Regions from separate parts of the Homo sapiens genome. Here region 2 is linked to region 1. The links come from fine-mapping of genetic effects on gene expression. A gene starts in region 1. The other region holds a variant in brackets. All regions are shown on one strand. Distances are between the middles of the regions.

Region 1 (15,503 bases):
TTTTAAGATCTGATGATCTCAAAGCTACCTAAAACTGCTCCTGGCCATATAAAAAGAAGGAAAAAGTTACTTTTTTTTTCTATGAAGCAAGTATATTGATTCCAAAGGCTGACAAATATTTCATCAATAAAGAAAACTAAAGATGTGTCTCATTTGTGAATACTAATATACAAATCCTAAATAAATTATTAGACACTAATAAATAATAGACTGTGATTAAGTGTGATTTATTTCAGAAATACTATGGTGGGTCAATATGAGAATGTTGATTGTTACAACACATCCCGTTAATAGGTTAAGAAGAAAATTAGCTAGATGCAGGAAAGATATTTGGCCAAATTTAACACTGATTCATGTTTACGGTAGTTTGTAGAACAGAAAAAATATCTATTTCTTTAACATGATTTTATACAAATATAATTTTTTCAATTTTGTCATCTTTTTTTCTGGAACTAAAATAGTTGATTATAAAGTTCATTCAGATGAAGGAAAATGCAAGTTAGCCTAGACAATCAAGGAAAAGAAGAACAGGGGAAGACTAGCTCTACCAGACAATTAAATATTATAATCTCTATAATTAAAGCAGTGTGATATTGGTGAGTGAATAGAGACAGGCCATGAAACAGAAACAGAGAATTCACAAATAGGCCATTGCTCATTTTATGTTCATTTATATTCCATTCAATTACATTAACTTACATTCTGTGAAGCAACACCTCATACCAATGGGAAAGATGATGGACACTTTTATTAGCAACACTGAAATAACTATACCACCATATAATTGGATGCAATTTTAAAGATAAAATTGCCTCCAATTCCTCATATCATACAAATTCCAAATAGATCAGAAATTTGAATGCAAAAACTATCCCATATAAATAATAAGAGAAACACGGGTAAATTTTTTGTAACCTGGGAGTGGGGAGGATGTTAATAACTAAGATTTAAAATAGTATAAGGAAAAGACTGATAAGTTTGATTACACAAAAATCCAAAAAATTATGTAAGGCATACAACACCATAGGCAAATTAAAACACAAATATCAAACTAGGAAAACATTTTTTCCGATTTATCTCAAAGAGGGCTACTTTTCCTACTGTATGAAGAATAGCTAAAAGTAAAGAAACAAAAGACCAATGACTTGATAGAAAATCGGGCAAGATATGAACCCACGGCCAAAGAAAAAAATATATAAATTATCCTTGAATACATAAAAAGATATCCAAGTTCATTCACAATAGAGAAAAATAATTAAAAACATAGAAAAAATAAAAAATTCTCAGAGATCACTATTTCTCTACTATAGGTATGGCAAAAATCCATTTCCCAGCATAATCTGGTGGTAAAGGTATGGGGAAAACAGATAATTTCTTGCATGACTAGTGTGAAGGGGAAAACAACCTAACACCTATAGAGGAGAAGGTGGCAATACCTTGAAAAATTACACATGCATTTACTCTTTGATTATCAATCCCGATTTTAGGATTTATCCCAGAGCTGCACTGACAAAAATACAGAAAGGAATGATGCCCATCAGTGGGGACCAGTTGAATAAACTAAGGAATATTCATACAGAAAAGTACAATCCAACTGCAAAAAGGAATGAGAAATATATCTATATACCAGTATGAAGAGATCTCTGTGATATACTGCTAAGTGAAAAAAAGCCAAGTGAAGAAAATAATGTATAGTTTACTATCATTTATATAAGAAGAAGGAATATTAGTTTTATATATATAAATAATTTTTATGTGCATGTGAAAAAGCAATGGCAGAACCATTTGAAAACTAAACAAAAGAATTATTTATATGAAGATGAGAGAAACAAGGTACAAGGGACAGGAACAGAAAATGGTCATTAGACTTCTTTGAATATCCTTTGTTTTTGCAAATTTGATCTTGAGAACATTTAAATAGTTTACATAATTATACAATAAAAATTATATTTTAAAACACCAGTAAAAGTTAAAAGAAACGGAACAAATAAACCTAACTGTATCTTGTGTCAAGGATGAACCACACAAAGATTTGTCCTGAAAGGCTTGAAAATGTAGTATTAATAATTTCACTGTGTGTGTGTGTGTATGTGTGTGTGTGTGTACTGTTTTGAAGTCCATCTAAAAGGCATAAACCATGGTCAGCCAAGTAGCAGTGAGTGCACTTAATGCCCAGATTGTGATCTTCAAATGGTATTTCCCACAAAAGAAATTAGGACTACTAGGAAAAAGTACTGATTCCAGGTCTGGGCCAGTAAACATACAAGTTTAGCCTACAACATCTTTCATACTAGAAAGTAGGGATGCTATAAAAAATTACTTAGTTTTATCAGAAGGGCTTGGAAGCTACCTTAAAGAGGTTCCAACTGGACAAAGATGGAATAATTTGAGCATCATTAATAAAGATTATTCCAATGGATTAAAATATACCAAATATATTGAAATCCAGTAGTTGATAACAACACCATCTTCCTGAAAGAAGTTAATTGCTCCCTTTGGAGTATGCTAAGAAAGTGACTCATCATTCTGAACATTGACAACTAAAGGGAAAGAAGCATTTATTTTGTCTTTCATACATCTCATCTTTTAACTATATCTCACAAAAATGAAAGAATCACTGAATGAAAGTTCCTTTGTGTATGACTATTCCATCTAATAAATAAATAAAGAATGATAGAATATCATCTTTTGGTAACTTTTAATGAAACAAATTCATTCTAGACAATCATTAACATCTGCTAACATCACAAAAAGAGAGGCATTCAAACATATGTGCCTTCTAATAGAAGTTTAGGATAGCATCTATGAAGTATTCCCACTAAAAAAACAAAGTCAAACTTTAATCTGATCCAACCTCCCCATTCATATAAATTCACACAAAACACTGGAGCTAGAAGCGAATGTTAAATGACATTGTTAGGATGCAATCAGCAGTATGAATACTGCCCAGTTCTGTTGGACAAAAGACCTTCCCTTCCTTAAACAAAGAAATTTAACACAAAGAAACAAGGAAGGTGAAAACCTACACATTAAGTGAAACATAAGAGATGTCAAACAATTGTAATGTATGAATTTTACTTAGATCCTACCTCAAACAATTTTAAAAATTATGAGATCTTCAGGGAAATCTGAATACAACTGGTAGTATTAAAATTTATAGTTGCCTTTTGAAGGCTGTTTATGAAATTGTGGAAATGTTTTTAAATGGTCTTTATCTTTCAGAGACACATACTCAAATATTTACTGATAAAATGATGTAATGTCTGACATTTGCTTCAAAATAATCTGTGATAGAGTTGAGAATAGGAGCAGATATTTGAACAAGACTGGCATAAATTGATAACTGTGAGATTTTAATATAGGTACATGGAAGTTCCTTATATTGTTTTTACCTTTGAATAAGTATAAATTTTTCACAAATAAAAAAATTAACCCATGTATAGTGTAACCACTATCGAGCAGAGACTGCATATCAGAACACCCTGATAAAACATGTTTTGTATATCTCGTTTATTCTTCAAAAATACTCTACAGTGAAACTAATTTTATTATTCTAATTTTTTAAATGAGGAAGCTGGTGTGGCTCAAAAATTCTGGGAAACATGCCCCTGGTCACTGTGCTAAGAGGTATTGGGCAGAGAAGACATTCGATTCAAAGTCTGTCTGAATCTACCATGCTCACTCTTAACCGTGCACTCTACTGCCTGTTCTTGGCTACTCTCAGGCCATGATTCTAAATTTTCATTGACATGGCACAGAGATAGACCAGTGGAGGGCAAAGGAGATGATCCACGCTTTCTGCAAAAAGGTGAGCTGGGAGCCAGCCTGTTATAAGGGAACCGTGAGGAGGGCTCCGCATTTCTCGTGGACTTTTCCATCTCTCTCATATTGAGAAGCCAAACGTGAGAGAGATGGTCAGAAATATCACTTTAAAACTTTCTCAAGTTTTAAAACTTTCTCAAGTGGTTCCTGGAAGATCCAGAGGACCTCCAGCTAAGAGAAAGGCTGAGAAATGACAAAAGCATTTACAACAGAGGTGAACAGTTCTAAACTGTGGCCAGACCCACCGGTTCTAGAAAATTTCGTAGCTCCTTGAGATCCAGTTCCCTCTGCTATAAAAAAGGAAAATAAAACCAATCTTGCAGGGTTGTCCTTAGGCTTTCATAGAGTGATTTCTATAAAGGTCTTTTATGGCAACTCTTTTTGTACTGAATGGCGCAGCAGCCCCACATGTTACACTGTTAGGGACACAGCTTGTCTCTGCTTAATGCTGGAAAAAGTCAGCAGACTGAATTCTAGTGTTCCTCCGCCATGAGTGATCTGGGTACCCCTTGGAGAATCATCAAAATCTCTGGGATTGGGATTCTGATTCTTTTTCTGTAAGAAGAGGGACTTAGACAGGTGGACTCTAAATTGCCTGTCACCTTTACAAATCTGTCTTAGGAGCCCTTAATTTCTTATGAAGGTTATCAGGCAACACTCTGTGTCTATCACAACAGCCAGTGAGTGGAGGGTGCACTATGCAGCCATGTGTGTCCTGTTACATATGAGATGCATGGGCTCCATGCAAACAAATCTCCTCACTCCCCTTCTACTCACCCCTCCCACAGCACCTTCTATGCAGTGCTGCTTAGCACAGTGCCTTGTCCCTCCTAAGGGCAGAGTCCACTCCAGCCACACACCCTGTCCCCACTGCCCTTCGCAGCCCAATAGCACCAGACCCTCTTCTCAGCCAGGCTCACCTTCTCTTGAACAAGTTGAATTTTCAGGTTTTCTCCAAGGAGGCTGCTTGAGCTGTTGCTTTTGCTTTTACTGTGAGTTAAAAGTGTCTGTACCGCCACCAAAACCTCTCAGTCAGGAAGCTCAGGCTGGGTGGAGCCACACACACAAAAATGTTTGTCTTTAAAGAAACAGAAATACGGCTCCATAATCTGGTGATTGCTTCAGTTTTGCCCGGTTGAAACGTTTTGCCCATGGGCCTGCTATAAACACCATTTCCAAAGCTACATTTTTCGCTTCAGGTTATAGTGATGGATGCAAAAGAGCCTTATTAAATGACCCAAATATTGCCTAGAAAACAAGGCACAGGACCTGATTGTCTTCCCAGGGTGGAGTGGGAGGCTGAGGGGTGATTTGGGGAAGAAGAGAGACAGGCATATACCTTGCCATTTCCAAGCGTAGAGCTGGGGGTTCTTAGTGATTGTATAATATGGGTTTTTTATTATAGTCTTTCAGGAAGGCCTCAAGTTACTCATTCAAAAGTTAACAGCACTGAGGCTCAAAGGCAGAGTCTAAATCATTAGGAACCAAGGGAAAAAAAGGAAGGTGACGCCTGGAAAAATAATCTGCCCATGAACACATAGTTTCTCTAGTTGCTTTTCGTATAATTCTTCCAAGTTTGAAAATATGCATGACCTAACAAGTAAAGATGCACCCAAGGAATAGATCCTACATCCCTTCCCCACCTTCCTCTCTACCCCACATCTTCCTACCCCAGTCTCAGGCAGAGACAGATTTTCCAGAATTTACCCAGTGGATGGTTCCAATCTGCTCTGGAGGTTTCTTGAGGTGAGAGGCAGGTTCCCAAAGCTCTCACGGTTGACCAGATATTCCAGTTGGCTACGTAAGAATACTATGTTTAGAGTTCCAAGCCCACAGCCCCTGTCGCGGCCTTGCCACCCTCCAGCGCCCCACGCCAGGAGTGGGCCTAGAGCGCTCGCCTTGCCCCTCTGTGATCCGGGCTCCGGCACCCGCCCAGGTCCGCACCACTGGCAGCCTGTAGGGAGTCGCTGGCCGTCGTCGCCGCTAAGTAGGATATATCTGCATCTTCAAAGGAAGATAAAACAAAAGCCTTCTTTGGAATATTTGGATTTTTGTCACTTTCTGTGAGCTTTAGTTCAAGAACACAAGTTGAATCACTCAAACATGAAAAACAAGTCTGAAACCAGTATCCATCAATACTTGGTCGAAGAGCCAACCCTTTCCTGGTCGCCTCCATCCACTAGAGCCAGTGAAGTAGTATGTTCCGCCAACGTTTCTCACTACGAGCTCCAAGTAGAAATAGGAAGAGGATTTGACAAGTTGACTTCTGTCCATCTAGCACGGCATACTCCTACGGGAACGCTGGTAACTACAAAAATTACAAATCTGGAAAACGGCAATAAAGAACGCCTGAAAGTTTTACAGAAAGCCATGATTCTATCCCACTTTTTCCGGCATCCCAATATTACAACTTATTGGACAGTTTTCACTGTTGGCAGCTGGCTTTGGGTTATTTCTCCATTTATGGCCTATGGTTCAGCAAGACAACTCTTGAGGACCTATTTTCCTGAAGGAATGAGTAAAACTTTAATAAGAAACATTCTCTTTGGAGCAGTGAGAGGATTGAACTATCTCTACCAATATGGCTGTATTCACAGGAGAATTAAAGCCAGCCATATCCTCATTTCTGGTGATGGCCTAGTGACCCTCTCTGGCCTGTCCCATCTGCATAGTTTGGTTAAGCATGGACAGAGGCATAGGGCTGTGTATGATTTCCCACAGTTCAGCACATTAGTGCAGCCATGGCTGAGTCCAGAACTACTGAGACAGGATTTACATGGGTATAATGTGAAGTCAGATATTTACAGTGTTGGGATTACAACATGTGAATTAGCCAGTGGGCAGGTGCCTTTCCAGGACGTGCATAGAACTCAGATGCTGTTAACAGAAACTGAAAGGTCCCCCTTATAGCCCATTGGATATCAGTATTTTCCCTCAATCAGAATCCAAAATGAAAAATTCCCGGTCAGGTGTAGACTCTGGGATTGGAGCAAGTGTGCTTGTCTCCAGTGGAACTCACACAGTAAATAGTGACCGATTACACACACCATCCTCAAAAACCTTCTCTCCTGCCTTCTTTAGCTGGGTACAGCTGTGTTTGCAACAAGATCCGGAGAAAAGGCCATCAGCAAGCAGTTTATTGTCCCATGTTTTCTTCAAACAGATGAAAGAAGAAAGCCAGGATTCGGTACTTTCACTGTTGCCTCCTGCTTATAACAAGCCATCAATATCACTGCCTCCGGTGTTACCTTGGACTGAGCCAGAATGTGGTTTTCCTGATGAAAAAGATTCATATTGGGAATTCTAGCTAGGGCTGGCAAATCATCTTATGTCCTATATACTTGACACTTTCTCCTTGCTGCTTTTTCTTCTGTATTGCTAGGTACAAATACCAGAATTATACTTGAAAATACAGTTGGTGCACTGGAGAATCTATTCAAATCACTCTGTTCAAAGGGGCATCAGTTTGTAGTCCCTTTGGTTCACACAGAGTGCTATGACAACTCCAAGGAAACATCAGAACTACTAACCTAGCTAGTTAGTGTTATTTATTCAGGAAATTTTTCTAAGCTGTGGCTAACTGTCTTGATCTCTCAATATAATTTTTGAGCCAGTTAATTTTTTCAATATTTTGCTGTCCTCTTGGGAATGGTCCTTCAAAGGATAGTGCTTCTAAGTACATCTTCTTCTCCCAGATTGTCTGGCCTTTTTAATGAGCTATTGTTAAACCAACAGGCTAGTTTATCTTGCATCAGACCCTTTTATGGTAGAGGGAAAATGTCTTTACTTTCCCTTTTTCTTCTGTTAATACTTATGGTAACATCTAACTCAGCCTCACTCACATTAAGTGATTCGCTTGAAATGTATTAAAAAAGAATACTGTGTTTAAAAATAAAAATAAAAAAAGAACATTATGTTTTTGATTTTGTGTGTATGTGTATGTGTGTGTGTGCACAAAACTCGGGGCTTTTCTTCTGCCGCCATGATGCTAAATCAATGCAAAGCTTAACTTATTAAGATAGTGCACAAATAATAACAGGAGATGAAAGGTATAGTACTGTCCTAGCTCTTACACAGATTATGTAACCTTGGAGTATCAGCTTCCTATTGCTATCATGACAAATTACCAAAAATGTAGTGGCCTAAAACAACATAAAATTTTCCTCTTACAGTTCTGGAAGTCAGAAGTCCAAAATGAGTGTTATGGGGATAAAATCAGGCTAATTAGCAGGGTACCTTCTAGAGGCTCCACGAGAGAATCTGTTCCTGGCCTCTTCCAGCATCTCTATGCTACTAGTGTTCTTTGGCTTGTGGCCACGTCGCACCAATCTCTCCTGCCATCTTCACATTGTCTTCCTTCTTTGACTTTCTTGTTTCCCCCTTAGAAAGATCTTTGTGTTTACATTTAAACCCACCTAGATAATCCAGGATAATCTCCTCACTGTGAAAGCCTTAATTTAATCACATCTGCAAAGACTGCTCTGCTATATAAAGCAACAGTCACTTGTTCCTCCCAATATCAAGTCTGTATTAGTTTCCGGGGCTGCTGTAACAAATTACCACAAACTGGGTAGCTTAAAACAAGAAAAAATTATCATCTCACAGTTCTTGAGGCCACAAGGTGTCAACAGGGCCACACTCTCTCTGAAGACTCTAGGGGAGGATCCTTCCTTGCCTCTTTCTGGCTTCTAGTGGTTTCTGGCAATCCTTGCTACTCTTTGACTTGTAGATGCATCCTTCCAATCTCTGCCTCCAGAGTTACACGGTTTTCTCCCCTGTGTGCTTATTCAAATTTCACTCATTTTCTAAGGAAAAAAGTCATTGGATTAGAAGAGCTTGCCCCACAGCCTCATCTTAATTTGATTACATCACAAAGACTATTCCCAAATAAGGTCACATTCTCAAGTCCTAGGGGTTAGATCTTGAACATTTCTTTTAGTGGATACAATTCTAAATTGTGATAGAAAATTGGTGGTTAAATAAGAAAGGACAGTGTATGCATTTTGAGAGTGAAACACCCTAGATCTCTTCCTTTGCAGTCCCAGTTGCAATGAATTGGTGAAGCCCATGCGGACAGTCCATGTCATGGTAGTTGGGAAGTTCTTACTGCATAAGGTTTAGCATCCTTATTGCTTAGCCTGGAATTCAGCTATTGTTACAGTGTTTCAATCTTTCTTTCTGGGCCAAATCTTCCTCTATTCCTCTCCTTGAGAGGCAACTTAATGTTTCAGTGCAGCTCTGCTTACCTAAAATTCCAATCACAGTTCCTGTTAATACCTATTTTACATAGCTGAAGGAGACAGAGGTATAAAGGCAGTTTCTGAAATAGCACAGGTGCTCAGCAAATGCTTTTAATGATCCTGTCTTAGTCTGTGTGGACTGCTATAACAAAATACTGTAGAATGAGTAATTTATAAGCAACAGAAATTTGTTTCTCACAGTTCTGGAGGCTGAGAAATCCAAGATCAAAGTATTGACAGGTTTGTTATCTGGTGATGGTGTGTTTCCTGATTCATAGATGGTGCCTTCTTGCTGTGTCCCCACATGGTGGAAGGGGCGGGGAGCCTCTCTCTAACCTGTTATAAGGGCACTAACTCCATTCACGAGGGCTCCACCATGATGACCTAAGTACCTCCCAAAGGCCCTACCTCTTAATACCATCACTTCAGGATTAGGTTTCAATACATGAATTTGGAAGAGGATACACAAACATTCAGACCCCAGCAGATCCCTCCTCAAGTCATTTAATCTTCTCTGTGTCTCATAGTCCCACTACTGAGGCTTTGCTTGTGGTATTTCTCTGTGTTTCCTGTTAAAGTAAAATTAGGAAAAAAAAAAAAAAAGCAAGGTCATGACTTTCATGCAAATTTAAAATACATGCATGTAAAAGATTTTACTTAACTTATTGATTAACGAGAAAACCAGTAAGACATTATAATTAGTTCAAAGGACATTTGAGAATCTTGGGTAATTTGTAGGGGGATAAGATTTCCCTTGTGCCCATTTAATGACTGTTCCTAAGATAGTCATTGTATTAGCCCGTTCTTGCACTCCTATAAAGAAATTCCTGCAACTGGGTAATTTATAAAGAAATGAGGTGTAATTGGCTCACAGTTCCACAGGCTGTGCAGGAAGCATGATGGCTTCTTGGGAGACCTCAGGAAACTTTCAATATGTTGGAAGGAAAAGGGGAAGCATGCACATCTTACAAGGCTGGAGCAGGAGCAAGAGTGGAAGGCGGCAGTGCTACACACTTTTAAACAACCAGATCTCATGAGAACTTACCCACTATCGCAAGAACAGCATCAAGGGATGGTGCCAAACTGTTCCTGAAGGACCACCCCCATGACCCAATCACCTCCTACCAGGCCCCACCTCCAATATTGGGGATTACAATCTGGCATGAGATTTGGGCGGGGACACAGACCTAAACCATATCAGCCATAAAATGTAATTTTGGGGTATACGTTCTGCCAGACAAAAAAATTATTTACTTGTCTATAAGCAAAATTGCAAGTTACCTCTCAACAGAGTTGAGTATCTTAGACAGTAGTCAAGCCTCGCATCACACAGAAAGAATACCCAATAATGCCTTTTGCTTATTTCCACATGTTGGATCATTTTAATGTCATTTTCTACCTTGTGATCATACATAATCTCCAACAATTATTCTTGATCCCTCAATGCCATTATTATGTACAGCTTGGTTATTTACATATATACAGCAAGAGTTTTAATTAGCCAGATAGGCCTTCCTAAGCTTGCTCAGGAAATCCAGAGCCTAACAGCATTAAATAACTACCAATGCCAAAGAATGAACTTCTATTTGGAAATTTTCAAAATGAATCTTGAAAAGTTCTATTATTTGTTTTTCTATCACAAATGTAGAAAACCAAGACAAAGACACTTTTTCCAATAGATTTTTCATGCAGTTCTTATAAATGTAGGTGAATTTTCCTTTTTTGTGAGGTCTCCAAAATTTGCAGAGGTTCCCAGCGTGACAGGTAGTGGACTGACTTACTGCCTGTGAGACGAGGAGCCTAGATGACAGCTACCATGTTAATTTTCTTGGGAGGGTTTTGAAGGGTTTTGGAGGCATTAGCCTCACATAGAATGTTAATCACTATTCCTCAGTAGTGGCCTTATTGTACCTGATTAAGTGAAAACCACTCTCAGACATCACACTCTAGATATGGCCCTAGTGCCGGTGTCCCTGGGTGCCTTCATCACCCATCATCTATCCGACGGTCCAGATAGAAGACAAACTGGGTCAGGCCCAATGTCTGTACCCACATTGATCCCTGCCTGAAGGAAGGTATGTTTTGTAGCAAAGGCTTATGATTTTGCCTTTTTTGAAGACTTAGGAGGGAAGTGTTTTCAGATACACAGGCAGAGGAGGAGCTGCTGAACCATGAATCAACAGCATCTGAGAACTTTCATATCTGCTAATAAGGCACAGTCCTTTCTTGGAATTGGAGGCTGAGGCTGTCTGCAGTGCATAGGTAACATGAGGTAAGTGCTTTCCAAGCCCGCCAACTCTGTCTCTCCCTTTAGGGCCTTCAGTTCTATTTATGTATCTGGACACCTATGATGTGAAATTGTATAATACGTGAGCTTAAGGAGACCAAACCACGATCCTGGGACTGACATCAAGAGTATTACCATTACCATTACTATTGCTGACACCACTGCTACTAGCTGACACTTGCTGATCACTTACTGTATGCTGAGTACCCTTCTCACCCCTTTATAGATACTACAGGCACACCTCAGAGATATTGCAAGTTCAATGCCAGCAACTGCAATAAAGCAAATGTAACTATAAAAAGAGCCACATGAATTTTTTGGTTTCTCAGGGCATATAAAAGTTATGTTTATACTACACCGTAATCTATTACATGTGCAATAGCATTATGTCTAGAAAACAATATATGCGCTTTAATTTAAAAATACTTTATTGCTAAAAGATGCTAACAATCCTCCGAGCCTTCAGTGAGTCATAATCTTTCTGCTGGTGGAGGGTCTTGCCTCAGTATTGATAGCTGCTGATTGATCAAGATGGTGATTGCTGAAGGCTGGGGTGGCTGTAGCAATTTCCTAAACTAAGATAACAATGAGGTTTGTCACATAGAATGACTCTTCCTCTCACAAAATGTTTCTCTGTAGCATGTGTGATGCTGTTTGATCGCATTTTAAGCATAGTAGAACTTGTTTCAAAATTGAAGTCAATCTTCTCAAACCCTGCTGCTGTTTATCAAGTTTATTTAATATTCTAAATCCTTTGTTGTCATTTCATAATGTTCACAGCATCTTCGCCAAAAGTAGTTTTTTTTTTTTTGAGATGAAGAAGGAGATTTTATTTATTTTTTATTTCAATAGGTTTTGGGGGGTTGGGTAGTGTTTGGTTACAGGGATAGGTTCTGTAGTGGTGATTTCTGAGATTTTGGTGCCATCACCTGAGCAGTGTACACTGTGCCCAGTGTGTAGGCTTTTATTCTTCACCTCCCTCCCACCCTTTCCCCAAGTCCCCAAAGTCCATTGTATCATTCTTATGCCTTTTCATTCTCATAGTGTCATTTCCATCTCAAGAAATCAGTTTCTTTTCTCATCCATAAGAAGCAGCTCCTCATCCATTCAAGTTTTATCATGAGATTGCAGCAATTCAGTCACATCTTCAGCCTACATTCTTCTTTTGTTGTTGTTAGAGACAGGGTCTCACTCTGTCACCCAGGCTTGAGTACAGTAGTGTGATCATAGCTCACTGCAGCCTTGAGCTCCTGGGCTCAAGTGATGCTCACACCTCAGCCTCCCAAGCAGCTGGGACTACAGGCACACACCACCATGTCTTACTAATTATTTTTTTTTTTGTTGAGACAGGATCTCACTGTGTTGCCCAGTGTGGTCTCAAACTCCTAGTTTCAAGTGATCCTCCTGCCTTGGCCTCCCAAAGTGCTAGGATTACAGGCATGAACCAACACACCTGGCCTCCACTTCTAATTCTACTTCTCTTGCTACCTCCACCACATCTGTAGTGATTCCCTCCAATGAAGTCTCGAACCCCTCCAAGTCATCTATGAGGGTTGGAATCAACTTCTTCCAAACTGTTGTTAACATTAATATTTTTATCTCCTCTCATGAATCATGAATGTTGTTAATGGTATCTAGAATGGTGAATCCTTCCCAGAAAGTTTTCAATTTACTTTGCCCAGGTTTATCAGAAGAATCACTATTTATGGCAACTATAGCCTTATAAAATATATTTCTTAAATAATAAGGCTCAAAAGTCAAAATTATCCTTGATCCATGAGCTGCAGAAGGGATGTTGTATTAGCAGGCATGAAATCTCCTTGTATATCTCCATAAGAGATCTTGGGTGACCAAATGCTTTGTCAATGAGCAGTAATATTTTGAATCTTTTTTTCTAAACAGAAGTATCAACAGTGGGCTTAAAATATTCAGTAAGCGGTGGGGGGGTCAGCCCCCCGCCCGGCCCGCCGCCCCGTCCGGGAGGGAGGTGGGGGGGTCAGCCCCCCGCCCGGCCAGCCGCCCCGTCCGGGAGGTGAGGGGCACCTCTGCCCGGCCACCCCTACTGGGAAGTGAGGAGCCCTTCTGCCCGGCCACCACCCCGTCTGGGGTGTACCCAACAGCTCATTGAGAACAGGCCATGATAACAATGGCGGTTTTGTGGAATAGAAAAGGGGGAAAGGTGGGGAAAAGATTGAGAAATCGGATGGTTGCTGTGTCTGTGTAGAAAGAGGTAGACATGGGAGACTTTTCATTTTGTTCTGTACTAAGAAAAATTCTTCTGCCTTGGGATCCTGTTGATCTATGACCTTACCCCCAACCCTGTGCTCTCTGAAACATGTGCTGTGTCCACTCAGGGTTAAATGGATTAAGGGCGGTGCCAGATGTGGTTTGTTAAACAGATGCTTGAAGGCAGCAGGCTCCTTAAGAGTCATCACCACTCCCTAATCTCAAGTACCCAGGGACACAAACACTGCGGAAGGCCGCAGGGTCCTCTGCTTAGGAAAACCAGAGACCTTTGTTCACTTGTTTATCTGCTGACCTTCCCTCCACTATTGTCCTATGACCCTGCCAAATCCCCCTCTGCGAGAAACACCCAAGAATGATCAATAAAAAAAGAAAAAAAAAAAAAAAATTCAGTAAGCCGTGCTATAAACAGATATGCTGTCATCAGGCTTTGTTGTTCCATTTATAGAGCACAGGAAGAATAGATTGAACATAATTCTTAAAAGCTCTAAGGTTTTTTGGAATGGTAAGTGAGCATTGACTTCAACTTAAAGTCATCAGCTGCATCAGCCCCTAATGAGAGAGTCAGCCTGCCCTTTGAAGCCTTGGAGCCAGGCATTGACTTCTCCACTCAAGCAATGAAAGTCCTGGATGTATAATCTTCCTACAAAAGTCTGCTTTGTCTCCATTGAAAATCTGTTGTTTATTGTAGCCACCTTCATCAGTGATCTAAATTAGATCCCCTGGATAACTTGCTGCAGCTTCTCCATCAGCACTTGCTGCTTCGCCTTCCACTTTTATGTAATGGGGACAGGTCATTTCCTTAAACCTCATGAACCAACATCTGCTAGCTTCAAACTTATTTCCTGCAGCTTCCTCACCTCTGTCAGACTTTATAAAATTGTGGGGTCCTTGCTCTGAATTAGACTGTGGCTTAAGGGAATGTTGCGGCTGGCTTAATCTTCTATCCAGACCAATAAAACTTTCTTCATATCAGCAGTAAGGCTGTTTAGCTTTCTTATCATTCATATATTCACTGGAGTAGCACTTTTAATTTCCTTCAATTACTTTTCCTTTGCATTCAAACTTGGCTAATTGTTTGGTGCAAGAGGTCTAGCTTTTGGCCTGTCTCAGCTTTTCACATACCTGCCCCACTAAGCTTCATCATTTCTAGCTTTTGGTTGAAGGTGAGAAATGTGCAACTCTGCCTTGCATTTGAACACTTAGAGGCCACTGTAATGTTATTAACTGACTTGATTTCAATATTGTTGTGTCAGGGAATAGGGAAGCCTGAGGCAAGGGTGAGAGACAAGGGAACAGCTGCATGGTGGAGCAGTCAGAACACACAATGATCAACTAGTTCATCATCTTGTAAGGCGCAGATTGTGGCACCCCAAAACAATTACAATAGGGACATCATAGATCACTGATCCCAAATCATCAGGACAGATAATAGTGAAAACGTTTGAAATACTGTGAGAATTGTCAAAAAGTGACACAGACACAAAAAAGTGAACACTTGCTGTTGGGAAAATGGCACCAACAGACTTGTTTGATGCAGGGTTGCCACAAATCTTCAATTTGTAAAAAGCGCATCATCCACAAAGTGCAATGAAATGAGGTACAATAAAGTGAAGTGCACCTGTACATCCTTCCTCATTCCTCATCCCACACATCTGGCCCAGATGGAACATGAAAGTCTCACTGATGAGAGAAGCAGCTGTGGCTTTCTCCGAAGGTCATTTTAGACACTACCTGAGACTGTTCCTCGGGGACTTTTCATTTGCCAGGTCTCTCTGACTCTGCAGGTGCCTTCAACCCACTCCCTTTTACTTTACCCTTTCCAAACTCAGATCCTTTTGCAGAAGTATTTAACTTTTGTCATCAATTTATATACACCAAGACCAAAAAAAGTGTTACCTTTAAAGACA
Region 2 (15,503 bases), 250 kb before region 1:
ATTAGATATTTAAATGTGACTACTTAAAAATCTTTTATAATTTACATGTTATTTTACTGTGATATTTTCCTAAAAGCTTTTGCAAGCCACTATGGTCAAAATTTGTCTTCAAAGAGATCATGGAAAAGACTCCAACAAGTACAGGTTTTTGATAACTTTAAGATCCCACCATTGGCCTGGGTAAGAATTTCCAGAACTCTAATGAAGAAACTGACTGGTTTGTAAAACTGTTAACCCGATGTTGGGCAAAACAAAAATTAATTGGATGGGACTAAATGAACTGATGAAAAAAAATGATGCTTTAAAAAATTACCTTTTTTCAAAACATTGCTCGTTCTTTAATATTTTGTTTTCCAGATCTGAGGAAATGTTTTCTCTTTTATCCTACGCTATCTGTAGTTGACCACAATCTGGTAGATTATGCATTTGTAAACAGAAATAAAGCATTTGATTTTCTCCCTACCTAATCCCTCCAGAATTTGAAAATGATGAGTGAGTATTCTTACATTCATGACCATAGTTGTTTGTATAGGTCCAATAAGAATCTATCTGTTTGTAACAGGACACAATGGAAAACATTGGTTACATTACCAAAGCTTTGGAATGTAATTTTTAGAATGTCATAGAATCAGATATGACTACACAGTTTTAAGAAACTAAGGATGACTTTGTGGGGCGAATAAGGCCCCTTAAAAAACCCCCAGCCTGGTACCTTGCTCACAGAGTTCCTAGCCTTATAGTTGAGTAAAGAAGGTAACTTTCATGCAGGCCCAGGAGCCTTAAAAATATTTTGGAGACCTCGAGAACAGAGGAACTCACCCAAATCTAGAGGTGTTACAGGCAAAATCTAATGACAAGCTCTTGGCTTGGCTTCCTAGACTTGAGAGGCTTTTAGATTCCTTATTAGCAGTTCCAGCAAAGCAGACTTAAAAAGAGCCTATACGATCAATCACTATTCTTGCTGCATTATATAAATAATCAAGACAAGTTTAATGTGACTAGACTTATTTTGTAAAAAAATTAGTCTTACTGTGATTATGTTTGGTAAAAGTGGGAGTGACTGTGGAGAGAAAAATTATATTAACAAAAACTATAGTGTACCCGTTATTGGATTCTAGTACTGTTCATTGTCTTTGAAGTTTTGTTATCTATATGTAGAATGGATTAGATATTAAACTCTAATTTCCTCCCATATCCGGCAACAAATCTTCAGGCTAATGCTTCATGTTTTTCTCCTACTCTCTTGACTTGACATCACTGAAAACTGAAGCTGCCCTTTTCCTGAAATTTTGCAAGCTGAAACTGGATGACTTGATATAAACTTCAGAGAACTCACTACCACAACTAATATATAAGCAACCTTTGTGCCTGTTGCTGTGTAGGCCACTCAGAAAGTCCACTGGAACACCCAATGACCTCACCAGAGACATTCAAACTGCAAATCAGGAAATTGATCAGAATTACCACTGCTTATCTTCACTCTCTATCTAAAGATGCTTTGAGCCCAACCTATAGTACCCTTTACCAACTGATTGCCCTCTGGACTCAAAAGCTGGGCTTATAACTTGCCCTAAACATTAACCTTTATTTTTCTTTTGTTTCCATAGAAATGCCTCTTATTGGGCTGGGCGCGGTGGCTCACGCCTGTAATCCCAGCACTTTGGGAGGCCGAGGCGGGCGGATCACGAGGTCAGGAGATCGAGACCATCCTCGCTAACACAGTGAAACCCCGTCTCTACTAAAAAACACAAAAAAATTAGCCTGGCGTGGTGGCGGGCGCCTGTAGTCCCAGCTACGCGGGAGGCTGAGGCAGGAGAATGGCGTGAACCCGGGAGGCGGAGCTTGCAGTGAGCCGAGATCGCGCCACTGCACTCCAGCCTGGGCGACAGAGCGAGACTCCATCTCAAAAAAAAAAAAAAAAAAAAAAAAAAAAAAAAAAAAAAAAAAGAAATGCCTCTTATTGTTTACATTATGAAGTCTCAACTTGGATGGAAGCCCAACTGCAACACGGCCTCCTAAAATGAGACGCAACTGTTCAACTGAACTGTTCTCAGGACTAAAAGGCTGTGTCAATAAGATACGGGGAATATTTGTTCTTCTGTGTGTTCCGATCCTTGTTTTTCTTTCCCTTCGTTGATCTCTTGTTTCACAACTTCCAACCCAAATCTGCTCACAGCTACTAACTTGGCTTTTAACATATGAAACTTTCTAAAAGTAAAGTTTCAAATGGGGAATGAAGAGGCTCAGAATACACTACCCCAAAACATGTCACTCAGAACACATCATCCCCAAATATGCCACTTTGGCATCAGAATTATTTTAAACTAAAGGCACATAAAAACAGGAGATGCAAGAAGATCACTCTGACCTTCACTGTTCTTTAAAAGCCAGAGATGAAATTCCCATGTGAAAGGTGTTCTCCCTAAACCAAGAAGAAAGTAACATTCTCATCACAAAGGATAGGAAGTTGAGGCTGATAGGAATCTATACAAGCATCCCTTATGTTCCTAATTACTTATTTACCCAGTTATTTACCCTAGCATAAGCCCCTTTGCCTTGTTACATTTTCACAATTCAGGGCATAAATGTTTGACTCTAGCTGCTGCTTTGTGTCTTCATTTCCTTATGAATGCTCTCCTGCCATTAAAAAACTTGCATTAAATAATTTATATACTTTTCTCCTGTTGATTTGTCTTATGTCTATTTAATTCTCCAGGCCCAGGCAACAAACAAACAAACAAGAAAACAAAACAAAAACAAAAAACCCCCAACAACAACAACAACAAAACCATAAAAGAGGAGGGGCAAATTTTTGCCTCCTCTTCTGCATTTTTCACATGCTTTATCCTGTTTTCACTTCTTTACTTTCTGGCACTATAAGGTGTTCCAGGCTCATCTTATATTTATTTTCCCTATCCTAGCCCTGGAATCAGCCACTTCTACACTTCTTGAAGGAGTCCTGGTTCCTTTCATCAGGGAACGGCATTTCGAAATCAAGATCTGAGTGCTGGCTGTGCTCATTGCTACTGGTGTCACTGCTCATAGTCTCCTCTCTCTCAGTGGGCAGAGCTAGGTAATTCATGTATGTATAACTGACCCATATATGCACACATATTATATTTTTGTATCTACTAAAAATAAATCAACCATGAGTTCATACTGATATTTCTAACTCCAGTCCAGCACCAGGATTTATTCTAGCATTATCTCTGCTTATTTGTAACTTCTTTCTGACAATGAGAAAAGTGGATCCCATAGCTTACACTATATTTAATTATTTTTGAGCCCAAGTATACCATAGGTTTAGGGTTGTTTGTGAAAAACGAATTTACCAATGAGAGTTTGTTGCTTCTGTACTGTTCTTCTTGTCTTTGGCCTGACACTCTCCAGTCAAAACATTGCTTTACAAAGGCACTTAGGTCAGCTCGTTTCTTCCCTCCTAACTTCCGTATGGTTATGTTTTTTTATTTGTAATACGGTTAGATTCATTTTAGCAGTCCGCTTTTCATCTTGGATTTCCCCAAGATCTCAGTTGATTTTTTAAAAATTTGTATACAGCAAAGTTTACCCTTTGTGGTGTATAGGTTTATGGGATTGAGAAAGGCATAGAGTCACGTGTACAACAAGACAGTTTAACTCAGAACAATTGGACTGCCCAAAAGTTTCCTAATGAGGCCCTTTAGTGGGGCATCATTTCATAGGACTCCCCCAACTCCAGGCAACCACGGATTTGTTTTCTATTTTTATAATTTTGCTTTTTCCAGAATGCCATATAAATAGAATCATTCAGTATGTAACATTTTGGATTTTCTCTCATTTAGCAAAAAGAATTTCAGATTCATTCATGTGTTGTGGGTTGATACTTTTTATTGCTGAATGGTATCCCATTGTCTGGATATACACAGACTTACTTACCCTTTCATCTGTGAAAGACAGCTGAACTATTTCTAGCTTTGGTAATGAATAAAGCTGCTATAAACATTCAGGGCCAGGCACAGTGGCTCACGCTTATAATCCCAGTACTTTGGGAGGCTGAGGCAAGAGGATCAACTGATGTCAGGGGTTCAAGACCAGCCTGGCAAACATGGCAAAATCCTTTCTCCACTAAACATACAAAAATTCACCTGGCGTGGTGGTGCATGCCTGTAATCCCAGCTACTCGGGAGGCTGAGGCAGGAGAATCACTTGAACCCAGGAGGCGGAGGTTGCAGTGAGCTGAAATAGCATCACTGCACTCCAGCCTGTGAGACTCCATCTCAAAAAAAAAAAAAAAAATCAGGTACAGGTTTTTCTGTCAGCATAAGGTTTCAGTTAACTTAGGTCAATACCTTGGAGTGGGATTGTTGGGTCACATGGTAAGTGCATGTTTAACTTTATAAGAAATTGCAAAACTATTTTCCATTTATAAGAAACTGCTATACTGCCATTCCCCAATGAAAGGAACCAGGACTCCTTAAAGAAGTGTACTTTTGGTGCAAAAGTAATCAGAGTTTTTGCCATTGAAGGTGATGGCATGAGTCAGGATTTCCTTATTTTAAAAGGCTGAATAATATTCCATTGTATGAATATATCATGTTTGTTTATTCATTCATGTGTCAATGGACACTTGGGTTGCTCCCACCTTTTGGCTATTGTGAATAACGCAGCTATGGACACAGTGTACAAATATGTGTTCAAGTCTCTGCTTTCACTTCTTTTGGGTGTATACCCAGAAGTGGAATTGCTGGATCACAGGTAATTATGTTTAATTTTTTTGAGGAATCATCATATCGTTTCCACAGCAGCTGCACCATTTTACACTCCCACCAGCAATGCACAAGAGCTCCAATTTCTCTCACATCCTTGCTGACACTTGCTATTTTTTTTTATTTTTTTGTGTGTGCATGTGTGTTGATAATACCAACCTAATGGGTGTGAAGTGATATTTCATTGTGGTTTTGATTTGCATTTTGTTAATAGCTAGTGATATTGAATATCTTTCATGTGCTTATTGGTCATTTGAATATCTTCTTTGGAGAGAAGTTTATCTTGATAAACCATTTTTTGAGGTTTATTAATTTTTTTAACTTTTATTTTAGATACAGGAGGTACATGTGCAGGTTCGTTACATGGGTATATTGCATGATGCTGAGATTTAGGGTATGGATCCCATCACCTTGGTAGTGAGGATAGTACCCATTAATTTTGTTAACCTTTTCAAGGATCCAGTTTTGAGATTCTATTATTTTTCTCTACTATTTTTTTCTGTTTTTAATTTCATAACTTTGTTCTTATCTTTTCTCCCCTTTCTGCTTGCTTTGGGTTTACGTTACTCTTCTTTCTCTAGTTTATTAAGGTGAATGCAGCAATTAATTTTTTGAGGTTTTTCTTCTTTTCTGGTATAAGCATTTAATGTTATAATTTTTCCTTTAAGCTCTCCTTTAGCTTTCTTCCATAAATTTTGATTTGCTGGCATTTTATATCAACTTATTTAAACATATTTTTAAAATTTGCCTTGAAGTTCTCCTTGAAGAGGTCCTTCACATCCCTTGTAAGTTGGATTCCTAGGTATTTTATTCTCTTTGAAGCAATTGTGAATGGAAGTTCACTCATGATTTGGCTCACTGTTTGTCTGTTATTGGTGTATAAGAATGCTTGTGATTTTTGCACATTGATTTTGTATCCTGAGACTTTGCTGAAGTTGCTTATCAGCTTAAAGAGATTTTGGGCTGAGACGATGGGGTTTTCTAAATGTACAATCATGTCATCTGCAAACAGGGACAATTTGACTTCCTCTTTTCCTAATTGAATACCCTTTATTTCTTTCTCCTGCCTGATTGCCCTGGCCAGAACTTCCAACACTATGTTGAATAAGAGTGGTGAGAGAGGGAGAGAGGGCATCCCTATCTTGTGCCAGTTTTCAAAGGGAATGCTTCCAGTTTTTGCCCATTCAGTATGATATTGGCTGTGGGTTTGTCATAAATAGCTCTTATTATTTTGAGATACATCTCATCAATACCAAATTTATTGAGAGTTTTTAGCATGAAGGTGTTGAATTTTGTCAAAGGCCTTTTCTGCATCTATTGAGACAATCATGTGGTTTTTGTCTTTGGTTCTGTTTATATGGTGGATTATGTTTATTGATTTGAGTATGTTGAACCAGCCTTGCATTCCAGGGATGAAGCCCACTGGATCATGGTGGATAAGCTCTTTGATGTGCTGCTGGATTCAGTTTGCCAGTTTTACTGAGGATTTTTGCATCGATGTTCATCAGGGATATTGGTCTAAAATTCTCTTTTTTTGTTGTGTCTCTGCCAGGCTTTGGTACTCAATGAAATAAAAGAGGGCACAAACAAATGCTCATGGATAGGAAGAATCAGTATCATGAAAGTGGCCATACTGCCCAAGGTAATTTATAGATTCAATGCCATCTCCATCAAGCTACCAATGACTTTCTTCACAGAATTGGAAAAAACTACTTTAAAGTTCATATGGAACCGAAAAAGAGGCCGCATTGCCAAGTCAATCCTAAGCCAAAAGAACAAAGCTGGAGGCACCACGCTACCTGACTTCAAACTATACTACAAGGCTACAGTAACCAAAACAGCATGGTACTTGTACAAAGCAGAGATATAGACCAATGGAACAGAACAGAGTCCTCACAAATAATATCACATCTACAACCATCTGATCTTTGACAAACCTGACAAAAACAAGCAATGGGGAAAGGATTCCCTATTTAATAAATGGTGCTGGGAAAACTGGCTAGCCATATGTAGAAAGCTGAAACTGGATCCCTTCCTTACACCTTATACAAAAATTAATTCAAGATGGATTAAAGACTTACATGTTAGACCTAAAACCATAAAAACCCTAGAAGAAAACCTAGGCAATACCATTCAGTACATAGGCATGGGCAAGGATTTCATGTCTAAAACACCAAAAGCAATGGCAACAGAAGCCAAAATTGACAAATGGGGTCTAATTAAACTAAAGAGCTTCTGCACAGCAAAAGAAACTACCATCAGAGTGAACAGGCAACCTATAGAATGGGAGAAAATTTTTGCAATCTACTCATCTGACAAAGGGCTAATATCCAGAATCTACAAAGAACTCAAACAAATTTACAAGAAAAAAACAAACAACCCCATCAAAAAGTGGGTGAAGGATATGAACAGACACTTCTCAAAAGAAGACATTTATGCAGCTGACAGACACATAAAAAAATGCTCATCATCACTGGTCATCAGAGAAATGCATATCAAAACCACAATGAGATACCATCTCACACCAGTTAGAAAGGCGATCATTAAAAAGTCAGGAAACAACAGGTGCTGGAGAGGATGTGGAGAAATAGGAACACTTTTACACTGTTGGTGGGACTGTAAACTAGTTCAACCATTGTGGAAGACAGTGTGGTGATTCCTCAGGGATCTAGAACTAGAAATACCATTTGACCCAGTCATCCCATTACTGGTTATATACCCAAAGGATTATAAAGCATGCTACTATAAAGACACATGCACACGTATGTTTATCGCGGCACTATTCACAACAGCAAACACTTGGAACCAACCGGAATGTTCATCTATGATAGACTGGATTAAGAAAATGTGGCACATATACACCATGGAATACTATGCAGCCATAAAAAAGGATGCGTTCATGTCCTTTGCAGGGACATGGATGATGCTGGAAACCATCATTCTCAGCAAACTATCGCAAAGACAAAAAACCAAACACTGCATGTTCTCACTCATAGGTGGGAATTGAACAATGAGAACAGTTGGACACAGGAAGGGGAACATCACACACCAGGGCCTGTTGTGGGGTGGGAGGAGGGGAGAGGGATAGCATTAGGAGATATACCTAATGTAAATGACGAGTTAATGGGTGTAGCACACCAACATGGCACATGTATACATATATAACAAACCTGCACGTTGTGCACACGTACCCTAGAACTTAAAGTATAATAAAATGAAATTTGCCTTGAGGTTTCTTGTACCCAAGGGTTATTTTCAAGTATGTGTTTAATTTTCAAATCTTTGGACAATTTCTAGATTCTTTCTGTTATTTATTTTGAATTTAATTCCATTTTGGTGTAAAAATATACTTTATGTAATTTCTATTGTTTTAGATTTGTTAAGGTTTGTTTCATGGCTCAGAATATGGTCTATTTTGGTGAATGCTCCATGTGCATTTGAGAAGAATGTGTGTTCTGTTGTTGATCGAAGTATGCTATAGGTCAAGTGTCAATAGGTCAATAGTGTCATTAGGTCAATAGTGTCAATAGGTCAAATTGGTTGATAGTGGTCAAGTCATCTACATACTTAATGATCTTCTAGCTACTTGTTCTATCCATTACTGAGAGAGATGTGTTAAAATCTCCAACTGTAATGTAGATATTCATCTATATCAGCTTTTGGTTCTTTCAATTTTTCTTTAAGAGTTTTGAAGCTCTTTTGTTAAGTTCATATACATTTAGGATTGTTATGTTACTTTGGTAAATTGGCATTTTTATCATTATGTAGTATTTCTTTTTACCTTTGATAATACTCTTTGTTCTGAAGTTTTAAAAAATTTTTATTTATTTTTATTTTTTATTTTTTTAAAATTTCACCTTTTTCTTCATCATTCAACTTGATAAAGCTTCTTTTTTTTTT[A/TA]ACATGAATATAGCTATTCCAGCTTTCTTTTGGATATTGTTTGATGGTATACATTTTTAATATTCTTTTATTTGTAACATATTTATGTCTTTGTTTTTAAAGTGACTTTTTCTTAAGGCAGCATATACATAGGTCTTGTTTTTAAATCATATCTGGAAATTTCTGTCTTTTAATTGGTATATTTTGATCATTCACATTTCGTGTTATTATATAACTGAATTAAAATCTACCATTTTCTTAGCTATTTTTTATTTAATCCATCTGTCCTTTATTTTTTCCTGCCTTCTCTTGAGGTAATTGAGCATTTACTGGAATTATGATTCTATTTCATCTCCTCTATTGACTTATTATTTGTTCACCCTTTAAAAAAAGTTTAGTCCTTGGTACAGGAGTTATATGTTTTTAATTAATTAGAGTGTATCATTAAATAACATTGTATATATTCACAGATAGTTTAAGGCCTCAAATTATCATAGTCCCACTTCTCTGCTATTACATATATTATACATATTATATACAATTATTAGCCTATAGATCTCTATATTATTAGATATTAATATCTGTATTCTATCATCTATCTATCTATCTATGAATCTATCTATCTATCTATCTATCTATCTATCTATCTATCTATCTATCTATCTATCCATCCATCCTGGGAATTAACTGAGAGATACAGATAAGCCAAAGCAGGCTTAAAACAAAACAAGGGCCGGGTGCGGTGGATCATGTCTGTAATCCCAGCACTTTGGGAGGCCAAGGCGGGCAGATCACGAGGTCAGGAGATCAAGATCATCCTGGCCAACATGGTGAAACCCCGTCTCCACTAAAAATACAAAAATTAGCTGGGTGTGGTGGCGCCTACCTACTCGGGAGGCTGAGGCAGGAGAATTGCTTGAACCTGGGAGGCAGAGGTTGCAGTGAGCCAAGATAGTGCCACTGCACTCCAGCCTGGTGACAGAGCGAGACTCCGTCTCAAAAACAAAACAACAAACAAACAAACAAAAAACAAAAAGTAGCTAGATAAAGAAAATATTGTTAGGTGAATCATGAAAAATAAAAGCATTTATTACGAACCATAAAAGTCGTACAGAGTAGCAGTATAAAAGATGATCTACATCTTGGGTTAATATAAGGCTTTTGTTATATAAGACTCACTTCACACCTTCATATTATTCATATAATTTTAATCTAATGACAACTTAGTTATCTTGGCTGTCTCTCCAATGTGTTGTATAATAAGTTCTTATAGGGTAAGGAGTTTACCGTGTGCAAGTGACCCTTGTTCTTCCCTCCTACCCCTCTCCTCCCTGTTTTCCTCTTCCCCTCTTTCCCACTCTCTCCTCTTCTCATCCCTTCTCAACTCCTCTCTCCCTATCCCACCTTCTTTTACTCACTCTTTCCTCATCTTATCTTCTTTAATCTCCCCCTTTTTAAAATTAATAGGTTTTGTTTTAAAAAGCAGTTTGAGGTTTACAGAAAAATGGGAATGATAAATACTGAGAGTTCCCCTATACTCCTCACCGTCTGCCCTAGCAATTCCCCCTATTAGTAACATCTTGCATTAGTGTGATACATTTGTTGTAATTGATGGGCCAATATTGATAAATTATTATTAATTAAAGTTCATAGTTTACATTAAGATTCAGCCTTGGTGTTGTATATTCTATGGACTTTGATGAATGTGTAGTGACATGTATCTACCATTATAGTATCACACAGAATAGTTTCACTACCCTAACAATTCCCTATATTCCACCTATCCATCTCTCCCTCCATCACCTGGAACCGCCAGCAACCACTGATTGGTTTACTGTCTCCATCATTTTGCCTTTTACAGAATACCATTTAGTTGGAATCATACAGTATATAGCCTTTTCAGATTGGCTTAGTTCACTTAGCAATATGCATGTAAGTTTTCTTTATGCTTTCTCATGACTTGTTAGCCCAGTTACTTTTTGAATGAATAAGATTCCATGGTCTAGATGTGCTACACTTTATTTATCCATCCACCTATTGAAAGATATCTTGGTTGTTTCTAAGTTTTGACAATTATGAATAAAGCTGCTATAAACCTTTGTGTGCAGATTTTTGTGTGGACATAAGTAATATATTTTTAAATAATGGGACAAAAAAGGAGAGCTTTCTAAGAATGACAGCGCCATAAAGAAAACATTTGTTCAAATTTCCAGACAGCAAAAAACTCACCATAGCAAACTTAAGAGACAAACAGCAGGGGGTGGTATTTGCAAGATATGTGACCACAGTTGACAGTTCTATTTTACTTAGCACACTGTGAACTTAAAGGAGATAAGATTCTCAAACTCTTTGACTATTTTATTTTATTACCTGCATGTCTGTGGTAGGAGAGAGACATATCAGTGATTCCCTTTAGATTTGTCCAAAAAATCTTATAAGAATTTAGTCCTGTTAGGAATTACCAGATTTCTATTTACATCTCACTGTTAGGAAAACACATTTTGAAATGAAACCACCATAATTCTACAGACTTTTAGAGAGGGAAAGTTATAACTGTTATTATATGAAAAGTGAACATTACAATATTAATATGAGAGAATATTTTGGAAGTCAAATCTGGCTTTCATTGCAAAGTGCGAACTGTATATGTTATCTGCGTTAGAACCGCCCTCCTCTCCAAACTAAATCAAAGAATCAGGAGTCACCTGTATCTCACTCTCTGGCTTATAATTTCTTTAAAAACTGAATCCATCTAAATGCAAATGTGCAAGTAACTGATCAAGCTCTGCCTCATTCACCTGAGAAAGTCCCCAGAGAGGAGCTCTGCCCACTCCCCCTGCACCCACCACCACAACACAGAGGCTCCCAGCATGACCGGGGCCACCCTCTTCCCTTCTCCCGAGCCCCTTGTTAACTTGTCAAGGGCTTGTCACTTTGGCTAAATCACATCATGAATGGGGTCAGATGTCTTCCTGGTCCCTGCGGAAATGAAATCCTCCTGGGTGGGGAAATCTCCTAAGCCTTGCCTCCCCCTCAGGTCAGAGCACAGGTAACCTGAGGGCAGGGCATTTGGCAGAAGTAAGAGGGAGCCATAAAATGTTTCAAGAAAGATGCCTGCTCCTTGTGCAGTGGAACCTGGAGAGTGCCCTTGGGTTCAGTCCTCACTGCCATCTAGAATTCAATATAGGAAACTCTCTTGGCCAGGCTCATGCCTATAATCCCAGCACTTTGGGAGGCTGAAGCAGGTGTATCACTTGAGCTCAGGAGTTCAAGACTAGCCTGGGCAACATAGGGAGACCCCATTTCTCAAAAAAAAAAACAACAAAAATAAGAAACTCTCTTTATGGCGCACTGCAGATGGTGGCTGGGAGATGTGTATATGTCCAGCCTGGGCCAGTAACAGGCAGCTGTTGGCCTTCCCTGGGATGCAGCCATATTCAGATGTTTAGTGGCTTTTCCGGGTCTCAGTGCTCCTGCTAATTCTGGTAAAAAGTTTGTTTTGCACAAAAGCATCACAGAGGTGTGGTGGGAAAAAGGAAGCAGAGCTGTTTTACAAACAGCTTCTTACCCTGGCTGTCTCTCAGGGCCTTGAGTCACCCTCTGAGGGCGGCTTTGTACGGAAACCCACACACATTGTTATTTTCCTGTCCCCAGGGATATGGTCCCTCTCTCTCTCTCTCTCTCTCTCTCTAGCAGACCAAATTTGTGGCCAGGTTCATCATGTCTCATTGCTCTTGTGTTTTTATAAAGAGCCTATAAGACAGTGAGAGAGACTGCCTAGGAGAGGGAGGGTTGCTCCTAGGCCATCTGTAGACCTTGCAAGAAATTCCAGGACCTGGCAGATAACAAGGCTTGTTTTGTTTTCTTTCATTTTCTCTTCTCTCCCCCACCCCGACCCCCCAGTTCTACCAGTAACAGTCTGTGCCAGCGTGGACAAGACACTTGATCTTTCTAAACCTCAGTTTCTTTATTCCTGAATTAGGAGAAAAAATCATATACCCTAAAGTCCCAGATATGTGCTAACTGAAAATATGACTGATATTATATTTTTAAGAACCTAAAGTCTGGAATAGAATGAGCTCAGATGGTACCCCTATGGTGATACTGATGAGCTCATTTCTTGTGTTTGTGCAAGAGCATTTTCATATATGCACATAGTGGCTGCTGCACCCTCTATGTGGGTACACATATGGCTTCCCCACAAATTGCAGGGCAAGGAAAGATCACCTGAACATCCTTCCCCCACCCTGGTCTTCCACAGAAGGTAGGGGATAGTCTTTGAAGGACAGGCTGAAAATTCATCTTTTGATTTCAATCTCATTTTATTCCCATTGCCTTTTGTTGTTGACTATACCACTCCACTTGATGGAAGTAGTTTCCATCTTAAAGAGGGGAGAAAGATTTCAGGAATAGGACTCAAGATGATCTGCAGTTATATATATATATATATATATATATATATTATATATATATGTATATATAATATATATAAATATATAATATATAAATATATATATAACTGTATGTATATATATACAGTTACGTTTATGTATATATTTTTCAAAGCAGTTTTAGAGTTACAGAAAAATGGGAATGAAAAATACTGAGAGTTCCCCTATACTCCTCACCTTTTGCCCCAATAATTTTCCCTGTTAGTAAATTCTTGGCTTAGTGTGGTTTATATATATATATAGAAGTAGTTAAAACTCCACTGTCCACAAGAATGAAGTCATAGATGGCAAGGGCTTTATTACTAGGCAGTTACCCTGACTCATAACCCTCTAACTGGCAGATCCTCACAACTGCACGTTATGTTTTTCTAATCAGCATGCCATTTATCTTTTGGAAACTCCAGTGAGGGAAGTAGAGAGAATATTATTGCTACTTTTGGCAAATGAGAGTAAGATAATCTGTCCAAGGTCAACCACTAGTTTCAGAGCATTTCACAGTTTTTCCAGTGGGGGTCTCCACCTTCCCCTTCTCCACCATGTCCCTCATAGTGGAGGGAACCATTCTTTACTCTCATTAGCTTAGAGATGATGCTCTCCCAGTTTGAGGCATGAGCTGCTCCCCTTCCTTCCTTCCTTCCTTCCTTCCTTCCTTCCTTCCTTCCTTCCTTCCTTCCTTCCTTCCTTTCCTTCCCTCCTTCCTTCCTTCCTTCCTTTCTTTTTCTTTCTTTCTTTTTGAGACAGGGTCTCACTCTGTCACCCAGGCTGGAGTGCAGTGACACAATCATGACTCACTGCAACTTTGGCCTCCTGGGTTCAAGTGATCCTCCTACATCAGCCTCCTTAGTCGCTGAGACTATAGGCATGAACCACTGTGCCAGGCTAATTTTTTTTTTTTTTTTTGGTAGAGATGGGGTTTTACCATGTGGCCAGGGCTGGTCTTGAACTCCTGGGCTCAGGTGATCCTCCAGTCTCGGCCTCCCTCCTAAAGTGCTGGGATTACAGGCATTAGCCACTGTGCCTGGACAGGTTAAACTGGTCCAACCATATTCCATGTGTGAGACATTTAATACCATTTTAAAATGAATTAATGGAAGGATTGATGGATATAAGATGAGTGAGGTGAGTTGATGGCCAGCCCAGAATAGGCTTTTTTTTTTTTTTTTTGGAGGGGAGCGATGATAGTGCTGTCCAGAGGGCTGGTGTGGCACTTGGGTGGGGTTCTCTGTAGTGGTGGTTTGGGCTAGAGGGATAGCACTGTGACTGGAGAGGAAAAACTCCTCAATAAAATAATTGAGGCAAATGAGAACAATCCTGATGTTTCTGAGAAGCACCCTTTTCACTTCTCTTTCTGTTCAGGCTGGATTCCGAGACAGTAGCAATTTCAGGTTCTCCTTCTCGGAGGAAATGGCCCGCCACCAATCTCTTGGCCAAACACAGCACGTGAATAGCTTTGCTGCATGTTTTCCCGGAGGGCTGATCCCTCTCAGCACACAGGGGCAGCCACAGATTCAGGCCCTACAGGCACTCAGTTTGCCCTGAAACACCTGAAAAAGCTGCCTTCTCCCTTTAATATCCTTTCACCCCCTCAATCTCGGGTGCAGACTTGGCCTCATGTCACTGCTGCTTTAGGAAACCCTGGAAATCTTAGTTCCCTGGTAGTTAAAAGGGGTAGATGGTATTACAAGACCGCCAAGTTTGCCAGGTCCCTGGCCTCCCCCAGTGTAGGAATATCCGCTTCCAAGTCCACCTACCCCTCTGCAGCTCTTTCAGCATCGCCTTATCTTCTCCTCACACACCTTTCCAGGCACCTACCAGTGCCACCTGTTTTCCTCTGATGCTCAGGAGCCCCTCCTTACCGGCTCCTGTGGAGACCACCGTTCAAGACAATCCAGGGGCAGCACATGAGAAAACAGAGAGTCTTGAGTTCTAAACCATCAGCATTGCAGCAAGATGGAGTGAAAAAATGGTTGGTTTTCCCATTTGCCTTCCCCCTCATGCAATCACATCTTTAAAAAATGTCCACCCCAATATCATTCTTGAAAAGAAAAGAATCATCCTTGGAAAGATGAGTTTTTTTTTTTTTTTTTTTTTGAGACAGAGTCTCACTGTGTCACCCAGGCTGGAGTGCAGTGGTGCAATCTCGGCTCACTGCAAACTCCGCCTCCTGGGTTCAAGCGATTCTCCCACCTCAGCCTCCTGAGTAGCTGGGATTACAGGCATGCGCCACCATACCTGGGTAATTTTTGTATTTTTAGTAGAGAAAGGGTTTCACCATGTTGGCCAGGCTGGTCTCGATCTCCTGTCTTCAGGTGATCCACCCACCTCGGCCTCCCAAAATGCTGGGATTACAGGCATGAGCCACTGCGCCTGGCCAAAAAGATGAGATTTATGTTCAGGTTTGCTCTTTCTCTGAGTATCAGTAGCAATA

Direction of the effects. Positions count from the first base shown, and alleles are read on the strand shown. Sizes are in standard deviations (SD) of each study's normalised expression.
In carriers of allele A in region 2, the expression in monocytes after interferon gamma of the gene that starts at base 4,816 in region 1 tends to be lower than with TA alone (moderate effect, 0.46 SD a copy in Fairfax 2014).

Evidence for each region.
Region 2: its variant is fine-mapped to the expression of GIMAP7 in monocytes after interferon gamma (Fairfax 2014, PIP 0.95).

What each region holds. Positions count from the first base shown.
Region 1 is chr7:150,504,185-150,519,687 of GRCh38, reverse strand. GIMAP7 (GTPase, IMAP family member 7) reads right to left here and starts at 4,816. Exons shown (of 2, transcript NM_153236.4): 1 at 4,743-4,816. It also overlaps the pseudogene STRADBP1. RefSeq lists enhancers at 4,665-4,924, 4,935-5,094.
Region 2 is chr7:150,752,422-150,767,924 of GRCh38, reverse strand. It overlaps LOC105375566 (a long non-coding RNA gene), which reads left to right. Exons shown (of 4, transcript XR_928163.2): 3 at 1,949-3,073; 4 at 6,298-6,338. Among named protein-coding and RNA genes, the nearest start is that of GIMAP5, 23 kb to the right of the region's middle. RefSeq lists silencers at 12,182-12,241, 12,282-12,331. The variant A/TA (reference allele first, on the strand shown) is at 8,646.